Regions from separate parts of the Homo sapiens genome. Here region 2 is linked to region 1. The links come from fine-mapping of genetic effects on plasma protein levels. A gene starts in region 1. The other region holds a variant in brackets. All regions are shown on one strand. Distances are from middle to middle. Region 1 holds the start of DPT (dermatopontin). Region 2 has its middle 25 kb from the start of DPT.

Evidence for each region. A credible set is the group of variants that fine-mapping cannot tell apart. PIP is the posterior inclusion probability: the model's chance that the variant is causal. Protein levels are from antibody-based Olink assays in UK Biobank. Linkage for the fine-mapping came from a reference panel and not from the study's own genotypes, which makes the PIPs less certain.
Region 2: its variant is the best candidate, but not a certain one, in a credible set for the plasma level of the DPT protein (UK Biobank, PIP 0.70).

What each region holds. Positions count from the first base shown.
Region 1 is chr1:168,723,945-168,732,395 of GRCh38, reverse strand. DPT (dermatopontin) reads left to right here and starts at 3,190. Exons shown (of 4, transcript NM_001937.5): 1 at 3,190-3,526. The coding sequence starts at 3,222.
Region 2 is chr1:168,749,651-168,758,101 of GRCh38, reverse strand. No RefSeq gene overlaps it. Among named protein-coding and RNA genes, the nearest start is that of DPT, 25 kb to the right of the region's middle. The variant C/T (reference allele first, on the strand shown) is at 3,464.

The DNA.
Region 1 (8,451 bases):
ATGCATTAATCTTATGTTCTCAATGTCTGCGTATGGAAATCATTCTCTATGCGGCCACCAGAATCTCTCTCAAAGGCATCAGCAGTTTCTGGAATCTCCTGAGACACTGGATGAGTTAGGTTGCTTTCAGCTTTAAGTAACAGAAATCTATATTAAAACTGGACCATAGCATGAAGATATTTATTTTTGCACATTAAAGGGAATCCAGCTGAGGTAGTTCTAGCTGTAGTTGAAAGAAATCTGCGGAGAGTGGAGATCAGGCAGAGGCCCTGGAAATTGTTGGAAAACAAATGTATAATAAAGATGAGTGTTTATGATAATCTGCTTTGTCTCTTAGAGCTCTTTAAGGTTTAAAATAGCTCATATCATGTCCAGAATGCAAGATACAACTCATGAGCATCAGGATGATAAACTGAAAAAATTAAAAAAAAAAAAAAACCCTCTAGCATAGAGGTTCTCAACCCTGGCTTCCGGTGAGAAGCCTATAGGGAAGGTTTCAAAGGACGTCATTGTCAGGACCCTGCTCAGAAGCTTCTGATCTGATTGGTCCAGAAATTGCTTAGACTCTGGAGGTTTCCAAAAGCTTTCCAGGTAATCCTTAAATGCTGATAAGGTGGAGAATGATTGCTTCAGCATATCATGAATCAGAGAGATCCTTCTAAGCTAGGAAGAATTCCGATGCCAGCACTGGGCAGTTACTTACGGATGGAAGTGGTGGGAGAAGATGGTGCTAAAAACAAAACTAAGCCTCACATAGCTGTTCAGCCCAGATCCTCTCCCCCTCGCTTCAGTAACCATGATCATCAAAGAAAACTGCATGCCCAACACACACACAAACACACACACACACACACACACACACGAGTTACTTGTTGCTTTATTCTCATGTATGACTGTCTTTCCCTTTCAAGACTATCTTGGTGTTTGATCTAGACTGAATACCGTCTGGTAAATGTGCCACAGGCTAGGCAGATGGTGGGATTAATAGTGTGATTTTTCTCTGGCTCCACATTCCTTTAGGAAGGTGACTCTTAGCAATTGATGTGAATAAGAATCACCTGGAAAATTTTTTAAAATATAAATACCTGAGCACCCCTTGTGAGGTTATGATTTAGCAGGCCTGGAGAAGAGCCACTGTCTACATTTTAACAAACTTCACAGAGGCTGTAGATAGAATTGGTCTATGATCACAATTCTAAGAAACTTTAAGAACAATACTGATGAGAAATGGGAAATACTATGTGCTTAAGAGATGCCCAAAGGTTTCAAAAAATTTGAAAAGCCAAATCATCAACGGATGCATGGAATGGGTAATGAGCACATGAAAAGATGCTCAAAATCATGGATCATTAGAGAAATGAAAATCACAACCACACTGAAATATCACTACAAACCTATTTGAATAGCTAAAATTTTTTAATGGCAATTTTCTGGTAGTGGTGGGCAATGGTATCACCACTTTGGAAATCAGCTAGGTAGTTTCTTGCTTTCTTTTTTTTGTTTTTTTGAGACGGAGTCTCGCTCTGTAGCCCAGGCTGGAGTGCAGTGGCACAATCTCGGCTCACTGCAAGCTCCGCTTCTCGGGTTCACGCCATTCTCCTGTCTCAGCCTCCCGAGTAGCTGGGACTACAGGCGCCCGCCACTAAGCCTGGCTAATTTTTTGTATTTTTAGTAGAGGCGGGGTTTCACCATGTTAGCCAGGATGGTCTCGATCTCCTGACCTCGTGATCCGCCCGCCTCGGCCTCCTAAAGTGCTGGGATTACAAGCATGAGCCACCACACCCGGCCTCAGTAGTTTCTTTTAAAGTTAAACATACATTACCTTGTGAACCAGCAATCTCACTCCTAGGTATTGACCCAAATGAAATAAAAATTTGTTCACACAAAAACCTATACATAGATGTTTATATCAACTTTATAATTACATTTATGTAATTCATTATATAAAATATAATGAATATAAAATTCATTACATAAAAAGTAATGAATTTTCAAAAACTGGAAACAACCCAAATGTCTTTCAACTAGTAAATGTATAAACAATCTGTGGTACATCCATGCTATGGAATATTACTCAACAATAACAAGAAACAAAATACTAACACATACAATGAGATGTTGAATTTTAAAATGGATGAACCTTAAAAGCATTATGCTAAGTGAAAGATGGACATGAAAGGCTACGTGTGGTATGATTCCATTTACTTGACATTCTGGAAAAGGCAAAACCATAGAGACAGAAAGTAAATCAGTGGTTACCAATGGCTGGGTGTTTGGGAAGATTTGACTGCAAAGGGATATAAGGGGATGTTTTGGATTGATGGAACTGTTCTAAGTCTTGATTAGGGTGCTGGCTATGTTACTGTACATTATGTATTTTAAAAGGTGAATTAATTATATGTAAATTATAACTCAATGAAAAGAAAATTCAATGTGAGGGCAAAAATACTGAAGGATAAATAGGGGGTTTATTTAGATTAAACCCATTACATTTTGAGAGCAGAGCACACTTTCTAGACTTGACTGGGTCCAATTTCAGCAGCATGGTAGAATGCTTAAGTGTAGAAATCATATCCAACTTATCTCCCCATGGGCCCATAGTACTTCCTTATGCAACTTATGAGTTCTCAGAGTAGCCCTGCAAACTGGTATACCCGCGCTTATACTCAAGGGTTAAAAAGTGTTGGATTGACAACTTAAAAAAAAAAACAGGCATTCAGCCTTACAGAAATCCTAGATGGCTCTGTTACTTCAGTCTATGATTTCGGTATTTTGAAATCACTGTCTGGGTATTTGTGTGGCCCGGAAGGCTAGTTTGGAGAACAAATACAGGGGTTTGCTAGTAGCGGGTAGGGTAGGACAGAAAGGGGTGAGGTGCTGAAAGGTGAGGGACAAATATGCTACTAATCAGTGTTTTTCAAGTGAATATTTCTACAGGGTAGAGCAGCAGTTGGCTTTTATAATCTAGATACAAAGTTGTTCTTTCTCCAGGGAGCTTCTTAGACTTACATGCTGCTGGTATATTCCTAGAATTCCACCTTAAAACAAGCTGAATGTCCTTATGGCTGACATCTCAGCATGGAAAAGTTTTGCTTAAGCAATGACACACTGCAGTTGGATCCTTCTCACCCACATCTGGAAGCCACATGTCAGCGGCAGCTATATAAAACGGTCAGACCAGCAATCTTAGAGTGACATTGTTTGCCAAAATCCCAGGCAGCATGGACCTCAGTCTTCTCTGGGTACTTCTGCCCCTAGTCACCATGGCCTGGGGCCAGTATGGCGATTATGGATACCCATACCAGCAGTATCATGACTACAGCGATGATGGGTGGGTGAATTTGAACCGGCAAGGCTTCAGCTACCAGTGTCCCCAGGGGCAGGTGATAGTGGCCGTGAGGAGCATCTTCAGCAAGAAGGAAGGTTCTGACAGACAATGGAACTACGCCTGCATGCCCACGCCACAGAGCCTCGGGGAACCCACGGAGTGCTGGTGGGAGGAGATCAACAGGGCTGGCATGGAATGGTAAGGGCCAGTCCCTGCACTGCACTGGGGCTGGGAACATCTCTGCATATCCCTCCTCCTGGGGGCTGCTAGACTCTCAAGGAATATCAGTAACCAAAGCCTGGGCAAATCCCACCCCAAACCTCACCACTGCATGCTCTGGGTGGAGCAGGGCTGCTGCTGAGCGGACTACATGACAGGACAAAAACCTGGGATGGGGAGTGTCTGTGGGAGACAGACTCCTCTGTGGCTCTGTTCCTTCCAGAAGCTGTTCTACCTACTCTCAGTTTGGGCCAGGGGCTGGTGTAGGTCGGCGAGAAGCTTGCTTACCAGACTACCAAAAGATATGTACAGAAACTGAAAGTAATAAACTTTATAGAAATTAAAACTTTCTGTGCCATCGGAATGGCATTTTTCTTTTTTAGAAATTTATTTTTACCATTTTACAAAAGTACTGGCCCACAGTAGTTTGGGAACAAGAAAAATAAACAATTGATCTCTCAGCACGGAGGGTTTGAGAACTATTGATTTAGAGCAAGTGAATGGAAAAGAGGGGACAAGGACATTTAGGCAAAAGAAAGTGGAATTAAATAGCTGTCTACTGCCTTGATTAAATGTGCTCTCTCAATTATGAGTACTGAGGTCCTTCTCTCTGCCTGAATTTAAAGTGGGTTTTATTGCTGGAAAATAGTTTACTAAAGGGTTTTGGAGAGAGGTGCTGTCTTCCCCTGACTGCATTCTGCCTTAAGCAGTGGCATGGAATTTTTTCGAGCTTGTACTTTTTTGTGGGGTGTGATTGTCTCAGCTGGGTCTCAGCCCAGGTGCTTGGTCAGGAGCTCATCCTAGTAGGCACTGACTGCTAGGCTGATTATTTACAACAGCCTAGATGGAGCCAGCACTCTAGGAGGCTTGGAGGAGAGAACGGAGGAGGCAGTCCAGGGAGGAGGAAGCCCACCTGGAGGGCTGCTGCATGTGCTATCTGTAGAGCAACCCAGATGTGTGGCAACAAGTACTTAGTGTAGTGGGGATTGGAGGGGTCAAGCACAAAATCTGGCCAGGTGTGGTGGCTCACGCCTGTAATCCCAAACACTTTGGGAGGCTGGGGAGGGAGGATCACTTGAGATCAAGAGTTCGAGACCAGCCTAGGGAACACAGCCAGACCCTATCTCTACAGAAAAAAAAAAATTAGCCCGGTGTAGTTGCATGCAGCCTGTGGTCCCAGCTACTCAGGAGGCTAAGGTAGGAGGATCACTTGAGCCCAGGGAGTCGAGGCTGCAGTGAGCCATGCTCGCACCACTGTATTCCCTCCTGGGTGGCAGAGCAAGACTCTGCCTCAAAAAAAAAAAAAAAAGAAAATAGAAAAAAGAAAAAGCATAGAACCCTGGGGGACACAACCAGTAGAGAGGTGATGATGGGAAATCCAAGAGGAAGAAACACCGATGGGTGGGGGAGCCAGGAAAGAGAGCGGGCCTTTAAGTAATGACAACAGCTACCATTTATTGAGTGCTTACCCTGAGCAGGCTCCATGCTAAGTGCTTTATGTGGATCATCTCGTGTAATGCTCAAAACAAGGGTATATCCCATTTATAGGTAGACAAACTGCAGTCTAGAGATCCAGTATTTCCTCGGCTAGAAAGCTGGGGTTTGGATCCACAGAGTCTTTGCTTCAAAGAGTTTGTACTTTGCCACAGTGACGGGCTCCTGAGAGGCTGCTGCCTCCACCCAGAGTGGGCTCCCACCCGACAGCTGACTCTGTCAGCAGAGCCAGTGCCACAGGACCAGATTCAGGGCAGTTCTTCCTCCTGGAGAGGGTGGGGACCTGCAAGACCACAGCAGAAGCCCAGCCCCAGAGGGATGATCCCTACTTGGTTACCAGGACTGTGGAGGGGCTCAGCCGGACTGTAGAAGGGGTGGGGAGAGGACTCACACAGGCAGCAGCAGGTGAGGGTGCCGGGGCTGTGGAGGCTGCTTGGACAGCCTTTGTGGGCCATTCTCATCCACCCCCATGGCCTCTGGTGAGCAGATTTAGTTATTCAAAACCCCTTCTGACAGATGCTGATTCAGAGACCAGGCTCACCTTGATTGTTGTCTCCATGACTCCTCACAGCCAGGCCCACTGCCTAATGTGGAGCATGGCAATGACCTAATTACAACTGTCCCTCCAGTCCTCACCTCTCAGGAGCACTATCGCATGGGTGCGACTCCTTTCTAACAGCCGTTTTTTGTGCCACAGTCAAGCAGCACTCAGCCATGGTTCCCCAAGCCATAGAGGAAGAGCCCTAGGCTCTGAATCAGGAGGCCTGGGTCTGGATCCTGGTTCTAATGACTTGTGGTGTGACCTTGGCCCAGACGCTCAGCCCTCCAGTCTCCCGCCTCATTTGGAAAGTGAGCAGTCAGGCTGCATGATCTCTGAAGGCTCCACAGAGCTGTGGCTCACCCCTGAAAACACTCTTGGCTTTTTCTTGCATTCTGTTGATCTTTGTGTTCATCCCTGCTAGAGAGAGAAGCCAAATGATGTTTAGTTTTAAACTTGCCAACTGTGACTGGTTTGTCATGAACTCCCAAACTATTTGAAGAAAAGCAAAAGAGGAAGAAGGTGAAATAACATGATTTTATTTGGCCCATGGGAGTCAAGGGAAAAGCTGATAGGCGAGATACCTCTTCCACCTCCTCTTACTCGGCATTTTTGGGTGTGCAGTGTCTAGTAATTTTGGTTTCCTTTCCTCCTTCCACCCTCTGTTGCCTCCTTCTCCCCGTCTACTAATCACAGGGTTGAAAACTCACAAACATGCAAAACAACTTCTTTACAATAAGATCCAGCTGCCCCAGGACTGACACGAATTACCCTGGAAGCACTTTTAAAAATGATTATGCCTTTGAGTTCAGCCTCCAGTCTCAGTGAAAAATCTGTAAGGAAAGAAATTGCTTATGGGCTGGGGAGCTATTACATCTGACGTTGGCTACAGGCTTAGTCTGTTCTCAGGGAACAGTTGTTGATGGTTTTGTGCAGTTGGGCTGCCTTGTATAACCAAATTAGCTTTCAGGTTTATTTTAAAAGAGGGGAGGAGTCTCGAATATAGGCTTGACAATAGCACATAGGATCTGCTAAAAAGAAAATCTTTCTAATCAAAGTGCCATCTTTAAAAGGTGTTGCCATCATAGCTGAGTGGTCTGTGGTGCTGCCATTGATCACAGTTTCTCTGTTGAAAATCACCTCTTCAAGTGCCGGCTTCTGAAGTTTGGATGATGGTCTCTGGCACTAACAACTACCAGGAGGCCTTACCTGGGTCCCCATGAGTGGTATTTCACCATCCCAGGGCATGCCTAGGTTGTTCTCAGGGAATCTGCTCTAACTTGGGTCAGCACAGGCTGTAGGGCACTGGGTCCTGTGTGGAATAAGATGAAGGTGAAATTTTCTAGTGAGATTGAGCTACTGTGTAGCGGAAGGAGCCCTGGGCTTGGATGCAGGAAACCTGGATTCACAGCTCCTGCTTGTATCTGTGACATTCGGTATCTCATTCTGGCAAAAAAGAAAGAGAAGAAAGAAAGAAAGAGAGAGAGAGAAGGAAGGGAGGGAGGGAGGAAGGAAGGATTGAAGGAAGGAAGGAAAGAAGGAAGGAAGAAAGGAAGGGAAAGAGAAAGGAAAGGAAAGGAAAGGAAAGGAAAGGAAAGGAATGGAAAGGAAAGAAAAGCAAAGGAAGAAAAAGGAAGGTGTGACTCCCACCTCACAAGCTGCTACTTGTGTTACTGTGATACTTGTAGGATAAAGTATAAGAAAACTCTAAAGCAAATTGAAGTCTAAAACAAATGCCTAGCACATCATGGGCAGGTAGTAAAAGTTTAGTGAATCTGAAATTGATGTGGCTGATGTTGGGCAAGCCAGCTTTCCACGGAGTCTGAGTTCAGAGGAAAAGTGGTCCATTTATTGGTATCTACTTTTTACCCCGGGCTTCAAAGAATCTCAAGGAGAAGTTTTGGAGTGGCAGTTTGTGTTAGAGCTGAGTTTATGAATTCAATGACAAGCCACAGACTGGAGAAGAGGAGAAAGAATCTATGCAACAGGGCTATGGCAGCATCGAGGTGCATTTGAAGGTGGAGAGGTTGGGTGGGAACTCCGTTTTCCATGGTCGGACTATTTCCCTAATCTAAGCAAGACCAAGCCTCAGTGTAGTTCAGGGCAGTCGTCCTGAGTCATGGTTCTGAGTATTGAGTACTCACAGGGCCCACTTCCTCGGGGATGCTTTCCAAGACCACCTCCTCTCCCCACACATCTCGCTGTCTCCACTCCCTCAGCCTGCTTTGTTTCCTACAATGCCCTTGTCACTACCTGATTGGCATTTGTTTCTTGTTTTGTCTCCCTCACTAAAATATAAGCTTCATGAACACAGGGGCTTTGTCTCATTCACCACTGTATCCCCAGTGCCTAGACAAGTGCTGGTACATAACAGGCCCTCAATACATATGCAGTGAAAGACCAAATCAGCAGTCCAAACCCCAGCCAGTGTCCCCACGGCCCTCCGCAAGGAGGCCTGCAGGTTTTCCCACAGGGGAACCATTTTGCTTATGTCTTTGATTCCCAATATTCCAGTGTCTATAGTAGGGGTTCCAACTGTATTGTTCACATCTCATTTTGATTTATTGCATTTACCAACATGCAGGATGGTCTTTCAAGATTTCTTAAGGATCGCTAAAACATGCACAGAGGATGGCTGACACACTTTGCCGCCGCAGAATGAAGTTTTTATCAGGTTTTCATTCTCTCAATAATCTTAAGGTCTCGATCAATTTCAAAAATTGAAAGTAAACTCTTTATTTCAAAAGCCATAAGGGCTAAATGCTGCACAGTAACCTATCCTGGTTTGACATTTGTGGAAGAACTGATGAAATCAGTTTGGTGTTATACCAAGGTTAATTTCTTAGCATTTCTTAGCATTCCTAGACACTCT
Region 2 (8,451 bases), 26 kb before region 1:
CTTGGCAGAAGAAGTTAAACTGTGCTGCAGTTTTGACGAAGGCCTCATCTGGCCCTTCAGAGAGTTCTGGACCTGGGGATAGCCTTTCAGAGTTGTCCTGAGTTGAGGCAAGGGGCCCAGGCCTTTGTACCACTGTATTGACCAGTCACTGGGTTGCAACTGAAGAAGGAAAAAAACATTGCACAAAGAACTTTCTTTCACCAAGGGCAATTCCTAGGAAGGCAATCAGCTGTGAACCATTGGCAGCTGATGCTCCCAGCAGCTGGGGGAAAGCATGCCTCCATCCTGAAGGCAGGACCCGAGCAATGCACTGCAGCCTCTCCTAGCCCAGGGATACACCACTGAGCAAAATCTAACACAGTTTTCTGTTTCATGGAGCTTACAGTCTAGTGGATAGTCACAGTGAAAAAAAAAAGTTGTAAAATTATATATTGGCTATGGGTGATTGGGTTGCTGAAATCTGCTCCTGTAGACTATCCCTAGGGAACTCAATGTTTCACAGCTATCAGGTATATTTTGTAAAGCTTCTGTGAGAATGTGTAAGACAGGCAGGAGACTCAGATTATTTCCATTCTACAGAGAGGAAAACTAAGGCACTGCACAGGCAGAGACTTTCCTAAGCCATATTCCAATGCAAGGGTGGAAATGATAAAAACAGCTACAGGTTGTCAAGAATCCTCTCACTCTTAGGCCTCCTGTAAACATTACCAGATGATTTTCCATGTTGACTTTCTTTGTGGAGGTGTTTTTGGTCTTCTTTGTTATTTTGTTTTTTCTTTTAATATAGTTTATTCTTTTTGGAGGATGAATAGCTCATTAGGGTTCTGGCTTCATTTACTCTCCTTAATTTGAGTGGGCTCCTACAGGTAATACCTATCTGGAAGGTAAAGATGAACAAACTGAGGTGCAGATGACCTTAATTGCCTATGGTCACAGCCATTAAATGACAGAGTTTGGGATGAGCCTATCTGGTCTTTCCTTACCCTTTCATTACCCCATGCCCAGGCATTCTGATACATGGCCTGGAAGCTCGCATAGTGAAGTGGGGAGATAAAGTGGATTTCTGTGTTTCTCTATCTTCTATTGTGCATTCTGTGTCCCCATCAGAAACAGCATTGACTTTCAAACAATTTGCAAGTAAATTCTCTGGATTTTAGAGAATAGTACATGGGACACGGTCAAAGATGAATTTAACCTCAGGGGAAGGCTGCTACAAAACCAGATGTCCTAGCTCACCAAATATAATGAAGTTGCACTAGGAAGTGGACAGGAGAGGGAAGAGTTTAGGAGCCCTTCTCTGGCTTAGCAGAATGAATGCTGCAAGGATCCAGCCCTCAGCTGGAAAGAAGAGCCTCTCATGGGAAGTGGGCACTGATATCTCGTGTTTGAGCATACCGCAGAGGAGATCATGAGGGAGGGGCTGTAAAGTAGTATAGAATAGGGGAAAGCATTAACTTCACAGCTAGTCAGACTGGTTATAAAGCTCAGTCTTGACATTCTGTAGGGTTTGCCTTGGGTACATCACTTCACCTCGCTGAGACACAGCTTCCCAGTATGTAAACCAGGGATATTCTGATCATCTTCACAGCAATATGGTGACAATTAAATAAGAATGTATGTTAAAACGCCAATAGCAGAGCAGGCACTGGGTAATTAGTAGCTCTACCTCTTAGCAAGGTATGAGCTCCCACTTTTGGTCTTCTTGCTGTAAAGAGGCTGGAACTCAGAAAATGTTCAGAAAACCAGTCTGCTTCCCTGGGGGTGAGTTGTGACCCAGGGCAGCCACAGCTGACACAAGCCAGACTTTTCCTTTATTGCTCTACAGAAAGGAACAGGGACATGGTTCTGGTTCACTGGCTGGGGACCGGCAGTTTCCACCAGGATAGCTTAGAAGAATGAGGCAGTGAGTACAGGAACTGCTAGAAGCGAGATTACCTCCCCAGTGCCATTTCCCTGGGGAGCCCTACGCCTCTCAGAAAGCTGTAACAAGCAGGAGGGTTTTGTAGAGTCCCATAGGTCCTGGGAAGGGGTGGGAGAGAAACAGCCTACTTCTCAAGGTCACTTGCAGGCTGTATGTCACCCACACCTTTGAGCAGAGTGTGAAGGCAGCACCACCCTCTGAGATCACCTCCTTGTATTTTGCCTGATGAGCAGCAGGCTCTCGTGGGCAGAGATTTAGAAGAGTGGGAACTTCATATTCTGGAACAAATGGAGCATACCTGGCACTGGGGCCTCGGCATTTATTATTCTTTGGTATCCTTTAGCTCTACTTTAATTTTCAATTAATATGGTGAACTGTTTTTCACTTGTCAGCAACCTTGACTAGGTGCCCTCTCTCTGCAGAGCACAAGCTGCATAGCACAGGGCTTGAGAGCTCTGACTTCAGTTCACATGATGAGGAATAGAAATCTGCTCCACTGCTTACTAATTGTATGACCTTTAACTCCTAGAATTTCAATCGGTAAAATGGGAATAACGTTAATCCACACCAGATGCAAATGAGCTAAGGCACTGTGAGGTGCTATTCTAATTCCTTACACCTGTTCAATGTTCAATTAATGTCACTAATACAACGCAGTGGTTCTGTCAAGCAGTCAGTCCTTTGGTAGTAAGAGTTGTATGATCAACCTGGCCACAAGGAAAAGCAAAGGAAATATAGTAGAATGAAATGCACAGATTCCATGACATAGAAGAAATATGGGATGAAGAATTTTGAAAAATGACCTTAAAGGCATTTATTCAGGACAGATGGCCATACTGTTTCTGATAAAAGTCAGTCTGCTCTAAGGGGGCCTCAGCTTTAGAACTGCATTTTAATGAGAAGGATTCTTAACTTAGTTATCATATGGCATAGGGGTGTTGGTGATAATTTCATTCATTCCACAAATATTTTTACTGCCTACCATGTGCAAAAGTTTTCAAAATAAAATAACTGACACATTCAGAGTAGTGTGGTACATATAATTTCTTGTCAACTGGATTGGAATTATTCGGAGTAAAACTGAAGAAGGCCAATTTAGCCTTTGTATTTTCTGCTTGCTCTTCTAGCATTCTCCTGCCCCAGGTGCCTCCAGCCTCCTGCCACCTCCCACCACATCCCATCTCAGCTCATGTCCTTAGTTGTTTTCTAGGCTCTCCCCTCTTCTCGATGCAATCAAATCCTATCTTTCCTTGCCCATCATGTCTTTGGTTTCCTCAATGTCCCAGATTCAGGTATATGTGTGAAATTGAACTGGGAGACCATATTTTATATTACATTCATGAGTTACCATCTCATTCAAGTGTTACACATTCCAGAAATATTTACACCAGAAAGGGAGGTAGCTGGGGACTCAACACCTTGGCTCAAGGAACTGAATCTAATAGGATTTCAGTCTCTACAACAGGAAGATGAGAGGCATACAGATCTTTCTGCTTCCTCCTACTCTGACATTTTCCAAAAAAATGGGAAGAAGTAAAAGAT[C/T]GTGCAGTGAGAACAGCGTGCCAGATACTGAACTGGACTTGGGAACTACATAAATAAATAAGACAGTCTAAGTAAATTTTTAAGTTAAAAAAGAAGTAGGCAATTTGGAGAGCACTAAGATACCCAATACTTTTCAGTCCAAATGGAGATTTTAGCCATGTTATGATTGTGACATGATCTTGCCATTATCTGCGTATGTCGAAATTGCCTATGTTTGCCGCCTTTCACTTCCCACCTGACATGTCTCCTGTTTGACCTGTTGGAGCAATTTTTAAAATGCTCCAGTTCATTAAGCAGATTTTTAAAAGGGAATCTATGACTGTATCAACACAGTGCTTCTGTTAAGTCATCAATACTTTAGTTTGTTTTTCTAACATTCTGAAACAGTGGTCACATGGAGGTGGTGGAGGGGGTGTTTCTTAAGCCAAATTAAGCCAATGAGGTTTCATTAGTAGATATTAGTTCTTACCAAAATGTGATAATTTTGTGTATATTCACAGTTGGAGCCAAATATTTTTTCCTGGGGAAATATCTTTGAAATCATAGTGCAAGTAGAAAGTTTAATTCATTAGGAAAATTCAGTTTTATTTAAAAATATACAAAAGGAACCCAAGGCTTATAATTTAGTCATTCGATTAAAACTTTGTAGCACTAGGCCGGGCGCGGTGGCTCACGCCTGTAACCCCAGCACTTTGGGAGGCCGAGGCGGGTGGATCATGAGGTCAGGAGATAGAGACCATCCTGGCTAACAAGGTGAAACCCCGTGTCTACTAAAAATACAAAAAATTAGCCGGGCGCGGTGGCGGGCACCTGTAGTCCCAGCTACTCGGGAGGCTGAGGCAGGAGAATGGCGTGAACCCGGGAAGCGGAGCTTGCAGTGAGCCGAGATTGCGCCACTGCAGTCCGCAGTCCGGCCTGGGCGACAGAGCGAGACTCCGTCTCAAAAAAAAAAAAAAAAAAAACTTTATAGCACTATATGGATTAAAAGTCGGAAGATATCAGATCTTTCATTTTTAACTTGATATCTCTGGAATATTGAATTTTAAATTGTTATATTTGAAGGAAAAGCAGTGCCCTTGTGTTTTACATCCTCTTGGTATTCATTCTTAGTATTCAAACTATCCAAAACACTATGCAACAATCCTTTAGAACACGGACCTGCAGTCCGTGGATAAATTCAAGGTGTCCATAAAGTTTCTGAAAAGAAATGTTGAAAGTCAAATGTATGTACTTTCTTCTGGAAAGAAGGTTCACAGTTTTCATCAGATTCTCCAAGTTATCTATGATCTCCAAAATGTTAAGCCCAATTGTCTTGGAGATGAGCTAACCAGTCATCTCATTGTACCAATTGGGAAACTGCCCACCTGCTCCCAAACTTATATGGCTAAGCAACTTGCCTGACATCCTCCATGAGCGCAGCAGATCCTGGGCATGAACAGAAATCTGTGGACTTCCAGGAACATAAGAATTAGAACCATTCCCACCAACACCAATATCCCCTGGACCTTTCAGGCAAACAATAGATACTAAATTTAGTTTTTGAAAATATTCTTGGCTCGGCATGGTAGTTCACGCCTGTAATCCCAGCACTTTGGGAGACCAAGGCAGGTGGATCATGAAGTCAGGGGTTCAAGACCAGCCTGGTCAAGATGGTGAAACCCCATCTCTACTAAAAACACAAAAATTAGCCAGGTGTGGTGGTGGGCACCTATAATCCCAGCTACTCGGGAGATTGAGGCAGAGAATTGCTTGAACCCGAGAGGCAGAGTTTGCAGTGAGCCGAGATAGCGTCACTGCACTCCAGCCTGTGTGAGAGCAAGACTCTTGGAAAAAAAAATCTTTTCACTTTAACTTATAAATTACCCTTTAACATTGAGGAGGAGCTGGGATTGTATCAGTGAGACACTGTATTTCTTAGGTTTGCCATCACCCAATTTGGCACTGATTTAGGACAGGGGCTGCATATGTGTTTGAATAAACACTCCCTCCCTCGTTGTCTGCCATACTTCATCCTGCATACAAACTTGATGCCTATAGCAAGGGTTTGGTCTCCTTTGATTAAGCCCTGGAGTTGAGGGCGGGGGGTGTTATCCGCTTTTGTTTCATGGAAAAGTACTCCCATATCTAGCCCCGATTCCTGAAAACTCATACCACAGTTCTCTTCCCAGGACTTTCAGATGTGAGGGGTTTGCACAACAGCGTCTTGGACAATAACAGAGAAGATAAAATTTCACAGATAAGGAGGAAGTGGTGTGCGTGGAAACTTGCAGTGGTTTAATTTCCATGCCCTTCTCCCCACACCCAGTCTCTCAGTGGGATGCTTGTCTGCACGTATAACTATGAATTATAGAGCTCCCATAAAAATGTGAGTCATCACCCAGTTAATATTTACATACACAACGTGTAAACTCCTTTGTCTTTAGCTGGGTGACAGTAAATAATGTTGAATCTGAAAGGTAAAAATCATCTGTCAGCAGCTGAGTGATCTTGATTCCTTTTTGTGGAAAACTTGGGAAAAATTGCCCAATTCATCCGTACATCAATGCTTCTCAAGCAACTTGCTTAATATTCATAACTCTAGTAATTGATTCACACTTTTCTTTCTGACACATAAATATTTTTCTCAATTATTTCCATCTCTTTTTCTCACTTGCAATCAATTTCCTGACCATCCATGTTAGAGTGACTGTTAAACATGGTTTACTTCTTGCTAGTTTTACTGTTGTTTAGGGGACATGATAACTGTCTTCCTAGTTATCATCTTAGTAGAAAAGCTTTCTGTTTTAATTTGTCATTTCAGTTCAGTTCAACAATGTCTTCTGAGCCTTTACTATGTAACCCCCACTGATTGTGAGGACCTCATCACTGAAACAGTCTTTGTCCTTAAGGAGCACATGAGCTTGTATAGATGTTTTATATATGCTACTAATTTTTACACATGGCAATATGACAATTTCATGTTGAAAAGAAATGCACTACAGACAGTGTGTTATGGCAGCACAGGGAGCAATTACAGAAAAACCTTCAGACAGGAGGATGCTACTGAGTTGAGCTCTTATTGCCTAGCAGAGTTAATAGGCATCCTTTATTGACTGCTTGCTACCAAGCATTGTGCTCAGTCTTTCACATGCATTTTCTTATGTTATACAAGAATCCTGTGAGGCAGACAATGTTATTATCCCTACTTTACAGTTGGGCGAACACAGGCTTTGAGTTCAAATAACTTTAACTGCCAAAGGATTTCTTGCTGACTCCGCAGTCTCTCCCCTCGCCACTCCACCACACACCTACTCATTTGAGTAGATTTTTTAAACAGACAGAAGATGGAAAGCATTCCAGGCTGCACTTCTATGTTTACTGAATGAGGAGGGAATGTGGAGTCTGGTGGCAGGATTGTGGCAGGCTAGAAAAATAGCCTTGGAATGATTCTCAACTACCAAGAGGTTACTATGTGCCAAGCAGTGCCTGAGTACTTCACAGACATGATTATCATTTAATCCTTATAATAATCTTGAGAACTGGATATTATTATCTCAATTTTTACAATTGTGGAGACTCAGAGTTTAACTGTACTTGCTTGAGACATCAAAGAATATTGAAGAGCAGGGATTTGATCTGTAGTCTGGCTAGGATCTTTAGGACCTCTCTAATCCATTACAGGGAAAGGAGCTTTCACAACCCTGATCAAGAACTTCCTGTCTTTAATTATTACTATACCTTCACTTCCTTTCTTTCTTAAGCCCAGGACCAGAAAGCAAATTAAAAATTCAATGCATTTCCCATCAAAATACCAAAATACCATCATTCTTCACAGAACTTGAAAAAACAATCCTAAAATTCATATAGAACCAAAAAAGTACCTTCATAGCTGAAGCAACACTAACCAAAAAGAGCAAATCTAGAGGCATCACATTACCCAACTTCAAACTATACTAGCAAAGACTATAGTCACCAAAACAGCATGGTACTGGTATAAAAACAGGCACACAGAATAATGGAACAAAATAGAGAACCAGCAATAAAGCCAAATACTTACACCCAACTAGTATTTGACAAAGCAAACAAAAACGTAAAGTGGGGAAAGGACACCCTATTCAACAACTGGTGCTGGGATAATTGGCAAGCCATATGTAGAGGAATGAAACTGGAGTCTCATGTCTCATCTTATAAAAATATCAACTCAAGGTGGATCAAAGACTTACATCTAAGACCTGAAACCATAAAAATTCTAGAAGATAACAGTGGAAAAACCTTCTAGACAGTGACTTAGGCAAAAACTTCATGACTAAGAACCCAAAAGCAAATGCAACAAAAACAAAAATAAATAAATGGGACCTAATTAAGGAAATTAAAGAAAAAGCTTCTGTGCAGCAAAAGAAATAATCAGGAGAGTACACAGACAACCCACAGAATGGGAGAAAAATTTTGCAATCTATGCATCTGACAGAGGACTAATATCCAGAATCTAAAAAGAACTCAAACAAATCAGCAAGAAAAAAATACTAATCCATGTCCCCTAAGGACATGAATAGATAATCCTCAAAAGAGGATATATAAATGGCCAAGAAACATGAAAAACATGCTCAACATCACTAATGATCAGGGAAATGCAAGTGAAAACCACAATGCAATACCACCTTACTCCTGCAAGAATGGACATAATAAAAAAAAATTTAAAAAAAATAGCTGTTGGCATGAGTATGGTGACAAAGGAACACTTTTACACTGCTGGTGGGCATGTAAACTAGTACAACCACTATGGAAAACAGTGTGAAGATTCCTTAAAGAACTAAAAATAGAGCTACCATTTGATCCAGCAATCCCACTACTGGGTATCACCCAGAGGAAAATAATTCATTACATGAAAAAGACACTTGCACACATGTAGTTACAGCAGCACAATTTGCATTTGCAAAAAGTATGGAACCAGCCCAAATGCCCATCAGTCAATGAGTGGATAAAGAAAATGTGATATATATATATATATA